2 separate regions of the Homo sapiens genome follow, and region 2 is linked to region 1. The links come from fine-mapping of genetic effects on gene expression. Tissue or cell type: nasal epithelium. Region 1 holds a variant in brackets; the other region holds the start of a gene. All regions are shown on one strand. Distances are from middle to middle.

Region 1 (8,165 bases):
TTGAGTCCAGGAGTTCGAGACCAGCCTGGGCAATGTGGCGAAACAAAAAATACAAAATTAGCTAGTGGGATGGCATGCACCTGTAGTCCCAGCTACCCAGGAGGCTGAAGTGGGAGGATGGTTTGAGCCCCGGAAGCGGAGGTTACAGTGAGCCAAGATCGCATCACTGCACTCCAGCCTGGGCGACAGAGCCAGACCCTGTCTCAAAACAAGCAAACAAAAAACCCCCCAAAACCGACAACAACAAAACCTTCTGGAAAATAGAGAAGAGCACAAAGAAGGAAATAAAAATTGCCTTTAGTCCCCAAAACCAGAGTGCTGGCTGTGGCTTAATAGAATGTTCTTCTGCAGCTGGGACTTAGGGAGCCGAGGAGGAGAGGGAAACACGAGCACCATCATCATCCGAGGGCCCTTGACCCTTGGCCCCACACGGGCTAAGCCTTTGGAACTTCAAGGTCTCTTACATTGTTATGTTGTTGCTGTTGTTGCTGTTGTTTTGTTGTTGGATTCTTCATGATTCACAAAGTCCTGGAGGTGACCAGTTTGGCCTGAGCTGTGAAAACCGATATAGTGACCTGGGTTTAAATTAGGTCTCCACCAACCTAAAAGTTGTCTCATCTTGGTTGGCTCAGTCATTTAACCTCTTCAAAGTGAAGCAGTGAGCCTGTGTGTATGATGTGCATAATGGTTGTATGTGTGCATATGTGTATGTGATGTGTACATGTGTAGGTGCAGGTGTGGATATGTGAGTGTTTCCTCAGTTTCCTCATCTCTACAATGGGGTAAAAACAATGACCTTGAAGGGCAGTTGTTGGGGTAGACATTGTGTCTGGCCTCCTCCTGTTTTCTCTCAGACCCTTTTCTCTCCTTTCTGCTTTCTGTTCTACAGTGTGGAGAGGGTCCCTTCCAGGGCCCCTGCCCTCTGGCTTCAGATAGGCTTGGACAAGTGAGTAGAAGCCTGGAGGGCAGAGGCGGGGAGAGCTCAGGGTGTGTCTCCCTGCTCTGCTTCTGGGGGTGTGTCAGGCAGTGGCTGCCTCTCTGCTGCGGCTCCAGCTCCTGCCAGAGGCCCCAGAACCATCAACTCTGATGACCCCACCTTGTCCCTTTGTCCTTTCCTGTCCCAGCCCTAGTGATGGTAGCAGTGGCTTCCTGTTGTTACTAACCTCTGGGTGACCTCGACATCCTCATATGGCTGTTCATCAATTCAAAGCTGCAAAACAAGTTCCCTCTATTAAACTCCCTGGGTTGGAAGATCTAGCATGGTTTTGGTTTTGTGCTGGGACCCTGATCCGTACAGAAATGACAAGCAGGGCAGTGTCTGGTGCCAAGAGGAGGGTCAATGTGTAGCACTCAGGTCTAGAGCTGTGGCCCCTCGTGGGCTTATGACAACATCACCAGCTAACCCCTTCTCTCAAGCGAAGAGCTCAACCCTGCCTTCTCGCCTTTCTTGATCAAAGCCCTGACTTAGCTCTTCGGCATTTTTTTTTTTTTTTTTTTTTTTGAGATGGAGTCTTGCTTTGTCATCAGGCTGGAGTGCAGTGGTGCGATTTTGGCTCACTACAATCTCCATCTCCTGGATTCAAGCAATTCTTCTGCCTCAGCCTCCTGAGTAGCTGGGACTACAGGCCTGCGCCACCACACCCAGCTAATTTTTGTATTTGTTTGTTTGTTTTTTGTTTTTTGTTTGAGACGGAGTCTCACTCTGTCACCCAGGCTGGAGTGCAATGGCATGATCTTGGCTCACTGCAAGCTCCGCCTCCCAGGTTCACACCATTCTCCTGCCTCAGCCTCCCGAGTAGTTGGGACTATGGGCACCCACCACCATGCCCGGCTAATTTTTTGTATTTTTAGTACAGACTGGGTTTCACCATGTGGGCCAGGATTGTCGTGATCTCCTGACCTTGTGATCCACCCGGCTTGGCCTCCCAAAGTGCTGGGATTACATGCGTGAGCCACTGCACCCAGCCTCTTTTGGCATTTTTAGTAACATGACCCAGTGTAAGGGAATGGGCTCTGGCAGCCCTGGGTTTGAACCTAGATTCACTATTAGTAGCTGGGTGACCTTCAGCAGGCCGCGTCAACTCAGCTGCATTATCTAAGCTCAGGGGATAAGAATACCTAATTCACAGAGATGGTATTTGTAAAGTACTCAATAGAGAGTAAACAGTCAGGTGTGAGGGCTCATGCCTGTAATCCTAACACTTTGGGAGAATGAAGCAGGAAGATTGCTTGAGCCCAGGAGTTAGAGACCAGCCTGGGCAACATAGCAAGATCCCATCTCTAAAGAAAGAAAGAAAGAAAGAGAGAAAGAGAGAGAGAGAGAAGGAAGAAAGGAAGGAAGGAAGGAAAGAAAAGAAAGAAAAGAAAGAAAGAAAGGAAAGAAAGAAAGAAAGAGAAAGAAAGAAAGAAAAAGAAAGAAAGAAAGAAAAGAAAGAAAAGAAAGAAAAGAAAAAATTAGCCAGGTGTGGTGGTGCATGCTTGACCTGCTCAAGGTCACCCAGCTAGTAATAGTGAATCTAGGTTCAAACCCAGGGCTGCCCTACTGCAGAGCCCAGTAATCCCAGCCACTTCCGAGGCTGAGGTGGGAAGATGGCTGTAGCCTAGAAGTTGGAGGCTGCGGTGAGCTGTGATTGCGCAATTGCACTCCAGCCTGGGCAAGAAGTGAGACCCTGTTCTCAAAAAAGAAAAAAAGGAAAAGAAAAAAAAGTATGGTGTCGTGTTTGTTGACTGTTATTAATCAATATTATCACCACAGACCCTTCCTTCAAGAACGTGGGATCTTTTCACCCGGTTGTGTGCGAGTGGACATTGAAATGGCTCACTTCTGGTCTTTCTAATATCTCTTGATATGAAGAGTGCAAAGACTGCTGGGAAAGATGGGAACATTTGCACAGGGGCTGAGAATCATGGGAAGAAAAGGGAAGAGACCCAGAACCTTTCCTTTCAATGTTGGCCTGAAAACATCTTGAGTAGATTGAGATCATCACCAAAAGGCTGGGGACCATGATGGAGAGCTGAGTCTGGTGGAGTTGAATTTGCCCACACTGGGCCCACAGGTTTGCTTCTACCTGGCATGTCTTTTCATTTCTTGTCCATCCAGCAAACTTCTATACATCCTTCAAGACCCAGCTGAGTTAAGGCCTATGGTGACCTTTGGTGACATCTCCAGTAGAATTAAACCCCATCATTCCTTCTGCTCTCAGCACTTGCGCATACTTCAGTGGTGGTGCCTACACACCCTCTTCTGTGAACTCTTAACGGCTCACACATCCTCCCGTCACCATGCCTGTCACATCCCTGCAGGAGTAGGAGGAGCCATGAGGGTAGTTGGTAACTGCTGAGCACTCACTGCATGTCAGGCACTGTGCTGTGTGTGTGATGCGTGTCACCCCACTGGCCCTCACCACTTCCTATGGGGTGTCACCACTTTACAGATGAGGGGACAGACAGGTGTACAGACCCATCGCTACCTGACTCTGGAGGCTGCATTCTCAACCTCCCTCATTTTGCTTGTGAACCCCAGAGAAAAGGGATCGGCTTATACCCTCCTTTGGGTACCCAGTAGCTGGCAGGATGCCTGTCACCAAGTGGTCACTTAAATGTCGGGTGAAATAAAGGAACATTCCACGGTGCTGACATGCCAAGGTTTATGAAACCACTTCCCTTATGTTGCTGTGAATATTTCTGAGCACAGCTCTCTTTCTTGGGCTGGATTATTTTCTTTGGGTCAGTTCCTGGGAGTGGAATGACTGGGCCACGTCATCTTCCACCTCCCAGAGCCGCTGGCAGTGAAGGAATAAAGCTGTTCTTTGCTGCCTTGCAGGCCAGGCCCTCTTCTCACCTTGATGTGGCTCCAATGCAGGCGCCCTGGCAGGCCTGAGACAGCTACACTGAGTCCTCTGGAGCCAGCGGTGGGGCCCTGTGCGGTCAGCGAGCCAGGATCCCCAGCACCACCCAGCACCCACAGCCCTTCCTCCAAACCCTCCCCAGCTGCCTCATTGGCAACTGGATTCTGTCTGGGGGCAGGGATCAGACCTGCAGGCATCCTCCCTGACCACACCACTGCCTCTGGCTTCCTTATTTGGAGGGTAAGAGATGAGGAGGTAGGAGAAGAGAAGAGGGCGGATGGAGGCAGCACAGGGAAGAAAGGATTGGGCAAAGGAGGGCAGGCCATAGGGAAGGGGTGGCCCCGAGT[C/A]CGTGCCTGGGGGTTAAACCTCCAGCACCCCATCTCATTTCTCCAGGGCTGGGGCAGATGGCCCTCCCGATTTCTGCAGACCTTCCTCCAAATCCTCAGCTCACAGAGGGAAAGGCGAATTCTCACTCTGGACAGGGACTCTGACCTCAGGTCCCTCGGCTGTGCTGAGAGCTCAGGGGTGGGAGAAAGCAGGCAGAGGGATGCTGGTGCCCCTGCCCTTCCCATGAAGACCCCCTTTTTCTCTGTCTCCTCTCCTTTCCATCCATTTATTTCCTTATCTTCCTTTATGGGTATTTCCACTCCAGTTACAAATGGGAGAAGACCAGGGATGCCCAGTTAAGACCAGAGACATCTCGTTTAGCACAGAGTCACCCAATTTAACTCAGAGACACCTGGTTAAGGGTGTCCTGACCAGTTGAGACCAATTTTTGTATGTTTTATGGTTGCCAGATAAAATCCAGGATGCCCAGTTCAATTTGAATTTCAGATGGGCAATGAATAATATTTTTAGTATAAGTATGTCCCAAATATTGCACAGGACACACACTAAAAAAAATTCATTGTTTATCTGAAATTCAAATTGAACTAGGCATCCCATATTTTTATTTGCTAAATCTGGCAAAGACAGTGCATTTCTCTTCTTTTCCTGAATTTTAAACTCTTGGGATTCGGCATCTGCCTCCCATCCTACTCCACCAACCAGCTTCCCTCTTCCACCTTTTTGGTGGAAATTTGACTTCTCTTAAACCCGTGCTCTTTTTAATTTCTCTCCTTCCCTGGGTTTTATTTAGTTAAACAAAGTCACACTGGGTCTCCATTTCAAAGTGTTTGATGTTATTACTAGATACTGGGGTTGAGGCAGTCTAAGCTTTTCGAAAGGTTTCTTCAGGACATTGGAGGGAAATTAAACCTTGGAAAATATGCTTGACATTTTTTTTTTCTTTCTAAAAAGAAAGTCTGTGCGTTCAGTTCCCTTATGGTCACGGGAGCACAAACAGTGGAGTTAAGGCCAAAAAGCTCATTTCTCAAGCCGCCACCAGCTGCAGCCCCGGCCAATAAATGATTTATCTCCAGCTGCACGGGCCACTTTCTCAGGGTTTCCATCCTCAGCTGAGCTTGTTCAAAGAGGCCTCGAACTTGTAGGCTCAGAGGGATCCGAGGAACTAGCTAGACCAGAGCTTCCCAAACTACCATGTCCAACAGGTCACTGGGGGAGCTTTCACCAGTCCCATGCTCAGGCTGACACAGCCTCATCAGCTCAAAATCACTGGAGCTGAGACCCAGCCATCACGGAAAAAAAAAATAAACTTGGCCAGGCGCGGTGACTCATAATCCCAGAACTTTGGGAGGCCGAGGCGGGTGGATCACTTGAGGTCAGGAGTTCGAGATCAGCCTCGCCAACATGGGGAACCCCCATCTCTACTAAAAGTACAAAATTTAACCGAGTGTGGTGGCACACGCCTGTAATCCCAGCTACTCTGGAGGCAGAGGTAGGAGAATTGCTTGAACCTGGGAGGCAGAGGTAGGTTGCAGTGAGCCAAGATCACACCACTGCACTCCAGCCTGGGTGACAGAGTGAGACACTGTCTCAACAACAACAACAACAAACTCCCAGATGATTTTAGATTGAGACCCAGTGAACCAGAGTGGTGCTTCTCAATGGCTCCTGGAAGTTGATGGACAAGGACCCCAGCTCCCCGCCTGTTGGTTGCAACAACTCTGAAGTATGTGACCCTCTTCTATTGGTCACCCCTGTCCTCAGTAGCCCATCCTCCCACAGCAGTAACTGGCTCCAGTAAGCCCCCTTTCTTGGCTTCTCTTCCCTGTTTCTCTTCCACATTTCTCTATGGTGCTTCTTGAGATCACCTCCCAAATCACCTACTTGTACTCAAATCCTTCTCTCTGATTTTGACCGTGGTTTATGATAGGTCACTGTTGCCCACAGATGGATGGTTTAAAATGCAAATTCTCAACTTAACAGGCTGCCCAGAATGGCAGAAGACCCCAGTTTTTGGAGCCAGGCAGACAAGGCACAAATCTTAGTTTGGTGGCTTAGACATTCTAAATTACTGTGGCATTTTCCGAGTCTCGGTTTTTAAAATCTCTAAATTGGGGTTAATAATGGCTGCCTGTTGGGGTTGTTGAAGAGGATAGAATAAAACAGCTTCTGTAGAAGGTAGAATAATAATTTCCTATTTTCACTTCCCTGTAGTAGCATTAATATTAGATGTCCACACTCTTGCTATGGCCTCAGGTGGCAGAGTATACTTAATGTCCCTTAGCTTTGGTCTTAGCCATGTGACTTGCTATGGTCAAGGATGTTGACAGTCATGATGTAAGTGAAGGCTTGAGTGGGCTTGTGCTGTTAAGCTGGCTCCTGCACTTTTTTACCATCATTGTAGAAAATAATTTTTTAGGTAGCGCTGGTTCCAGAAGTATAAGAAACATACTAAGCAGAATTGAACCCATCCGATGGCCAGGAGTCAGGCCCAGCTGAGCCCCGCTTAGGCCAGCCAAATTCCATGTAACCCGAAGATGTTGTATGCTGTGAATTTTGTTACACAGCTTTATTGTGGGAATAGCTGACAGATACACTATTTATAAAAACACCTACACAGGGCCTGGTACATCGTAGAGGTCCAGTAAATGCCAGTTGCTGTCTCTTTTCATCACATACACTAACATGGGAGCCAAGACATTTCCCTGATTCTTATCCCTCAAATCAGACTTCTGGATAAAGACCTTGGAATGAAAGCCATGTTGGGATTGAAGCTCAAATTGGTAATGGAATCCTGCCCATGCAAACCCTCTTTCCTCATGTGGCTCCCAGCACTTCTCTGATCAGAGATAGAGACCTTTGTAACAGCATTAGTTCCCCCTCACCCCGTCTTTTAAAGGAGGCACAAGCCTGTCTTTTCCTAAACTTTCCTAGAAAGACCTCACCCCTTGTCTGTGTCTGTCACTTAGGGCACAGCATAAGCTGTTTCTTACCATTTCACTTTTCACCTGCCTTCATTAATGATAACTCTAATATAATAGTCAACATTTTAAAATATTAATTGCTCATCAGGCATGATGCTGGGTACTTGACATAAATATTGTTTAAAAGTCAGCACATCTAAAGATCAAATGAATGCTTCATTTACAAAATGTCTAATGATTTTGAATTATATGTGAGTCAAGGTTTCAAAGCCTGATTAATTATAAAAATATATTTTTCAAAAGTCAACACATCCTTATGGTGTAGATAATGGTATTATCTCTCATTTGCGTATAAGGAACTTGAGGCCCACAGAGATTTGGTGCTACCCAGACCCAAGTCCATCTGATCCCCAAACCATGCCCTTACCCCCACCCTATGCAGCCAATGTGGTCCCTCTAACTAGATTGCAAGGTCCTTGAATTCACAAGCTGTATCGGATGCACTTGGTGAGCCCATCACACACAGTAGTCACATGGCTGTCATTTAGTGACTGGCTGGAGCTGCAGGGATCAGGCAAGGGGTTTTCATGTTCATGGCAGGGCTGATCCTTCTGCAGAAGCACCCAACACCCTGGGCAGATCCTGTGCTTCCCACCGTCAGCATCTACCAGCCACACTGGACCAGTGTCTACCTCCTCTGTATTTCTGCTCAGTCTTAGGTGCTCTGTGAATTTCCAAAACACACAACAGGTCTCTGGGAGTCCTGGGAATTGTCACAATGCTTTTGTTGGCAAGCAACAGAAGCCAGGTTTGGGCTCTGGTGTCCTTTCCTTTCACTTTTCTTGTCTGCCCATTTCTGTAGATCCACTTGATTTTCTGCTGGATTTCCCCATGTTCCAAGCCTGTACACCCTCGAGATTGAATTTGTGTTCCCAGCCTCTGGGCCACTCCCTGTGGTGTTCCATGGGAATCTCATATGCGAAGTGACTTCAGTCTGGGTTATTTGTACCAACCACTATGACAAGGTAGCTAAGACTTACTCCAGTCA
Region 2 (6,542 bases), 160 kb after region 1:
GTCCCTGTCCCTGGACAGGCCCTTGAGGGCAGCTGGGTCTTCACTGGACCTATGTGTCATTCTAGGCTGCTTGCCCAGCTTAGCACTGTATACCGGGCACTCCACAAACACCGGTGAATGAATGAATGAATGAATGAACGAATGAATTTCCTCCCTGAAACCCAGAGGAAGGAGTGATTGTCCTAAAGGAGTATACCCATGTTCAGAAAGGTTAGATGGCCCAGCCCTGGTCAAGTAGGACTCATTGGTAGCAATTGCCAGCCAGAAGCTGGGATTCTTGACTTTCATTTGAAGCCGGGTCTCACTGCTGGAAAATGACTGAGTGTTCCAGAGTTAATCCAGGTTAATTCCTGCTGATTAATCATTAATGGGCTAAGGAACCGCCAAGATTAAAAATAGGAATGAACAGTTTAATTTCAACCCAATCGCTCTTTATTCCCCATGAAGGCTTGTATTTTTCACATCTTTCTAACAACAGCTAGTACAGTACTAGTGACAAATGGGGACAGGGAAGATTGAAAATTGTCCAAGAAATAGATGTTAGGCACGGGATTCTGCAGCAACAGGAGCTAGGGAAGTGATGGGGGGCAGTCTAGGCAGCCTTTGGTCGCTCAGAATCCAAAATTCCAAAGAAGCTGGCTTTGGCTCAAGTTCAAAGGGTTGGCTTTAAGAGACGCTGACATAATGGTTAAAAATCAAGCCTAAAATTATTTTAATTTAAAGACTTGACTAATTATGAAGACTGAGTGTTGGCTGATATTGGGGAGAAAGTCAGGGAATGAGGAAGTACCAGTTGCTCCGTTTTGTGGGACACGGATGAGTTTTCTTAGGTTAGAACCTCTCACCTTCCCCAACGCATGGAATAAAACGCCACAGAGTGGATTGTAATTATTGCTCTGCCGGCTGTGATTTGGTTGAGTATCTTAAATAGACCGTGCCTCAGTTGTACCCTCCCTAACAACGAGGGCGATGACATCCGCTTCAATTCCTCGTGCACCTTCTGGCTCTTCCACCCCAATTCCTCCATTTACTGAAGGAAATTCCTTCTGGTGCTGATTGCAATCTCTTTGATGATAAGAACTTGCTCTCCCTGGGCTGACCCCCAGCAGAGCTTGTCCTCATACCCGGCGGCCCGAGGGGGCGCTGCTTCGGGGGAAGTTAGTTGGGTTTAAATAAAGCAGCTTCCTTGGCTGTTCGCGGTTGCGCAACCCTGTTCAGCCACCGCCATGTCAGCCCAGCGGTATCCAGAGGCGCAGGCCCGGGGTCGCCGGGACCCGAACCTTCTGCTTCCCGCCTAGGCAGAGCCGGATCCTAGTCAGAGACTGCTGGGAGCGCCGCGGGCCCAGAGTGGGCGGAGCTGGCCGGAGACCCCCCCCTCGGTGGGCGGGGCGTTCCTGCTCCGCCCCGCCCCGCGCACGGCCGAGCGCCGCGCCGCTCGGCCCCGCCTCTCCCCAGCCCTGCCCCCTTCACCTCCCCGCAGCTCCTCCCCTCTCCCATTGGCCGAGGTGGAGACCCTCCTCTCTGCCCAATGGCCGCCGCCGCGGCTCGGCCACCCGCGTCCTGACTGGCCAGCGACCGGCAGAGTGGCGGGGTGCGGACCAATGGGAAGAGGCGGCTCGATGAATGGCTGGCCCGGGTGGGGAAGGCAGGAGGCGGCGATCCCGGCGGAGGGGGCCGTTCGCCAGCTCTGAGGCAGAAAGTGCCACGACTCCACACGCGCGCACGCAGCCAGCGAGCGGCCGGAGCGGACGGCAGACGGGGCGGGCGGCGTCAGGGTCGCAGCGTCTACAGCTGCTCGGGGGCGGTTTCTTGGCGGAGGCTTGGCCGGCTCCTCTCTCCCGGCTCCGCGGCGGCTGCGAAGGCGGCGGCTCCTGCCCTCTCGCTTTCCCTCTCGCGTCTCTGGCTGCAGGTAAGAAACTTGGCCGGGCCCTGCAGCGGCCGCGCGCGGGCCGGGCCGTCGGGGGGCCGGGGCCGGCCGCGCTGCGCCGCGAGTGACACGTCTCCTCGGCGGCCCCTCCCCCGGCCCGCCCGCCGCCCGCCGCCTGCCGCCGCGGCCGTGCACCATCGGGGTCGGGGTCGGACTCGGGGCGGGGGTGCCGGGCAAGCGCCGTACCGGGGCGTAGGCAGGGCGCGCCCCGTGGTGTGGACCCCGCGGCCCTCGCCGTCCGGGGAGCTGCGGCGGCAGACGGGCGCGACGTGGCGACCGCTCCCTGCCTCCCTCCCTCCCGGCAGGGCCGTCGGGCCGGCCAGCGCGCTCCGAAGTTGGGCGAAGAAAGTTGGCGGCGGGGCGGGGCGGGGCGGCGCACAGCTGGCGGAGGAAGGGGTTAAGTTTCGGGAAGCCGCCGGATGACGTTGCCGGGCTGGAGTCCGGGCCGGAGGGGTGGGGTGCGGGCGGAAGGCGGCGGAGGCCGGCCGAGGGGAGGAGGGCGGGATTGAATGGGGGCCCACGGGCCGAGCGCGCCGGTCCCGGGCCGCGGCCCGCTGGCGCTTCGCGGGGCTGGGACGGCCCCCGACGGGGCGGGCCGGGGCCGCAGGGCTCGCGGCGCAGGGACCGGGTCTGTCCATGGCACGGACGCCGGGCGGCCGCGGTGGCAACTTCCCGGAGTGCGGGAGGCGGCTCCCTGCTCCCCCTGGCGGCGGGGCCGGGGCCACCGTTTCCCCGGCTGGGCTGCGCGGAGCCTGGCTCGAGGGCTCCCGGCGGGGGGACGAGGGCGCCCGGGGCCCGGCCCGCCCCGCCCGCGGCCACGATGAATGGGCCGGCGGTGCCAGCCCCGGGCGGAAGCGGACACCTCCGGGCCGGCCAAGCGCGCTGGCACCCGGCCTGGTGCCCGCCCCGGCCCGGCCGGCTCTCCCGCTGCGCCCTGATTAGGGGAGGCAGGCCGGGGTCTGCGCTTCCAGTGGGGCGCCCGCAGTGCTTCAGGGACCCCTCTCCGAATGATAAGTCGCGAGTTTTAGCTCTAGAGTGCCCCGGCTGGCGAGGGTGACCCCGACCAAGTTGTTTCGTTCGGGGTCTCCATTTCCTGGTCTGCAAATCGGGGCTCCTGTTAGCTTCGATTTGCGAGGAAAGCTGTGGAGACCCAGCACTTGTAGGAAGGAGCCACAAGTGTTGGCTGTTCAGTTGGGATGCTTTTGTTGGGGGGTGCTGGACACGGGAGGAAGGTGGGGCCTGGCTCCGGCACTGCGGCGGGCGCGGGGCTGCAGAAGTTGCACAGCCGGGGTTCTACACCCCGGACCACGTACTGGCCGCCTACTCGCAGGTCCCATAGCCCCTCTGAATCCTAGTTTCTTATCTGTGGCCTGAAGACAGCACCACCCACTCACAGGGTCGGGAACCACGCCGGGAAGTGCTGGGACCTTGTACAAACAGAAGGCAATTTGGCAATTACTCTGAGAGGTCAGAGGTTAGGAGAGACTGGGAAGCACCAAGGAAATGAAACTCTGAGGGACCTGAGGAGCCTCCCACGTCACTGCTCAGCTATTCACTCTGCGTGCTGGAACCTTCAGGGTAGGGGCCATCTGGATGGCATTTTCAGGAATTTGGAGAAATGGGCCTGGTAGGGCCTCATATCTCACATTAGATACCTCTTCAGAACTGGGTGTCCCCAGAGACCCAGGACGTCTGTCTGGCACTCCCAGGAAGAACAACTGCGAATGTTACCCCGCCCTGTGCAGCTGGGGGGCATTCTCCCACTGCCCCGCCTCCCTCCTCACACTCCTTGTTTGATTTAACTTCCTGTTAATCCGACACCTAGAGAAATCTGTGACCCTGCAGCATGTCACTTACTGTGTGATGTCTTGACTCGTTTACGAACTTGCCAAAGGTCACTCCCACTATCATATGCCAACCTCTTTCCCTTCCAGAAAGAAGCTTCCGGTTCTGAGGTCCTGGAGGTGCCATTTCCCTCTCTGTTGAAGCAAAGGCCGGGGCAGACCTCCTAGTAGGTGAAGTTTTCCTTTTACATGGAGCACCGCAAAGCCGGCTTGCAGGGATCTTGGGCCAGTGGAGGCCTGGAGGAGGCTAAGGTTGGGGGAGGGGAAACCAGAAAGGGATCTTGGGGTTTAGGAGAGGGTTTAGAGCTCTAGGCACTATAACAACTCTCACCTTTCATACTTAGGAATCTGCCTCTGAACATTTACAGAGAGATTAAGAAGTTACAGTGGTTCATGGTATATGAGTATTTTTTGGTGATGGAAGAGTTTTAAATAAATCTTAAATCAAGTCACATTTGAGCAATTATGCTCTTTAATGAAATGAGCCCTAACTCAACAGGCTGCAATAATTACATAGCAGCAAACTCAGTTTAAATGGTTGAATGCCAGTGATTGAATTGGAGTATTGATTTATTATGTAGCAGGGACACCTTTTAAAAGTGTCGGGACCCCAGACTCTTCTTGTCTTTTTAGCCCTGGGAATTTTAACTAATAGATGAATGACACATAGAGGATCAACAGTTCTGTTGAGACAGCAAGTTTTTCTTTGCTAAAATCTTGTTTCAGGAGAAACAAAAATAATGGTCAAGTCAGAATGATGAAGGCAGGGACTGTGCTGTCCGTCTGTGCATGCTGGGCCTGCAGTGGTTAAGGCCTGGCCTATAACATCATAAATATTGGTTATACCAGGCGGACAGCGCCCCCATACCTGTTAAACTATTCCCAGCTGTCTCATTGGATAAATGAAGCTTAGCCCAACTTGGTTTTTAAGGTTCACTTTTTAGAATCAGATTCCACAACTGTGGTTTACATTTAGGCCTTAAAATAACCCTGTTCTAGGGGGTGGGAATGGTTGTCACCCATTCAGTGGATGAGAATGTGGAGGTCCAGCTGGTCAGAAGGTTGTCAGGCCAGTTCCTGTTGCCCAGTTGCTAGGCGATGTGGGCCCGGCCTTCCAAATGTTCCCTCCTGGCTATATACCTCCACCTTCCTGGGGCAATAATTACCCAAGGGAGGACACAGAACGTGAAGATCAAAATTAAGAGCTTCAGTGGCAGGAAGGTGGGGAGGCATTTTGAAAATCTGGCAGTGCTGAAGGTATTTTTCATTTCATTTTTTTCACCGAGGGTCTCCTGTGTGGTGGGCCTTCAAACACCGCAAGTGAGACCTAGTTCTTGCCTGAAAAAGCTACTGTCTAGAACTGTGTTGTCCAATACAGTAGCCACAAGTAGCAATTTAAGTTTAAAACAATTCAAATTAAGTAAAATTAAAAATTCAATTTCTGAGTCAAATTAGCCACATTTCAGGTGCTCAGTAGTCATAAGTTGGTCAGCGTGGCTGTAGATGGTTTCCACCATCACAGAAAGTTCTAGACAGTGCTGATGTAGAGGCAGCTGGTATTCTGTAAACATTCATGTCCCTGTTCCTCTTGATCATGTGGTAATATGTTGAACCACATGAAATTGCCCATTCTGTAGGTCAAAACCAGTTGACTAGTGGCAGTTGATACACTTCACCTGATAAGATCTCACCCTGAGAAAGCATTAGTCCCGCCTCTTTGTGTGCATTGTAAACTGCATTCCAAGAAAAAGGAGTGGGAGGGGGGCCACACAGATAGTGGCCCTTTCCTGGAGAGATTTTTTACCCAATGCCCTCAGCATCAAAATGGTGACTTGTAACAAAGACAGAAAATAAATTGATATTAGGTAGAAAGTGATGGCTTGTAAGGGAAGGTAAATATTTAATTTTAAGTGACAGTGCCTAGGCAAGGAGGCACTCTCACTTAGCATATAGAAAATTAGTTCAGGGGCCTCCTAGGAGACTTTTCTTAGGCAGACAAATTCTGGCCGAGTCTCCTGAAGCAGACAACCAGACACCCCCAAAACCAGACGTGTGTGTCCTTTATGTGCATTCAGTAACATGTGTCTTCCACCTGTCAACAATGGGCAGCAACTTTAACTTATCAAGAACATTTTGTGATTTCTAACTTAGATTTTTTTGGCAAGACTAGAATACCTGCCCAGTCCCGAAACCTTTTCAGTTCCAAAGTATTGGAGTTCCAGTGTTCTTGGGTGGCATAAATTGCTTCCTACACCAGTGACTATTTACACAGCTCTGTTATTCTCCATATAACTTTTTTTTCTTTTTCTTTTTTCTCTTTTTTTTTGAGACAAAGTTTCGCTCTTGTTGCCCAGGCTGGAGTCCAATGGCGTGATCTTGGTTTACTGCAACTTCTACCTCCCGGGTTCAAGTGATTCTTCTGCCTCAGCCTCCCAAGTAGCTGGGATTACAGGCATGCGCCACCACACCCGGCTAATTTTGTATTTTTAGTAGAGACGGGGTTTCACCATGTTAGTCAGGCTGGTCTAGAAGTCCTGACCTCAGGTGATCTGCCCTCCTCGGCCTCCCAAAGTGCTAGGATTATAGGCATGAGCCACCGTGCCCGGCCTCCATATAACTTCGAAAGGATCATTGGGCAGTACTGGGGAATAATTTTTGAATTCTTGGTTGTACTTGTGGGCTCATCTTAGTATTAGTACTCTGTAAAGAATAATATAAAACCAAAGTTTAACTTTAAAGGAAGAAGCTGAATGATGGACAGCTACTTGATC

The links. PIP is the estimated chance that this variant, and not a neighbour inherited with it, causes the effect.
Region 2: it holds the start of RRBP1, and the variant in region 1 is fine-mapped to the expression of RRBP1 in nasal epithelium (TOPMed, PIP above 0.99).

Annotation. Positions count from the first base shown.
Region 1 is chr20:17,839,211-17,847,375 of GRCh38, reverse strand. All of the region lies in intron 1 of LOC107985440 (a long non-coding RNA gene), which reads left to right. Among named protein-coding and RNA genes, the nearest start is that of SNORD17, 120 kb to the left of the region's middle. The variant C/A (reference allele first, on the strand shown) is at 4,196.
Region 2 is chr20:17,677,395-17,683,936 of GRCh38, reverse strand. RRBP1 (ribosome binding protein 1) reads left to right here and starts at 1,695. Exons shown (of 25, transcript NM_001365613.2): 1 at 1,695-1,909; 2 at 3,862-3,938. RefSeq lists enhancers at 1,025-1,084, 2,338-3,010, 3,202-4,401 and silencers at 1,365-1,784, 2,015-2,344, 2,375-2,424, 2,455-2,764.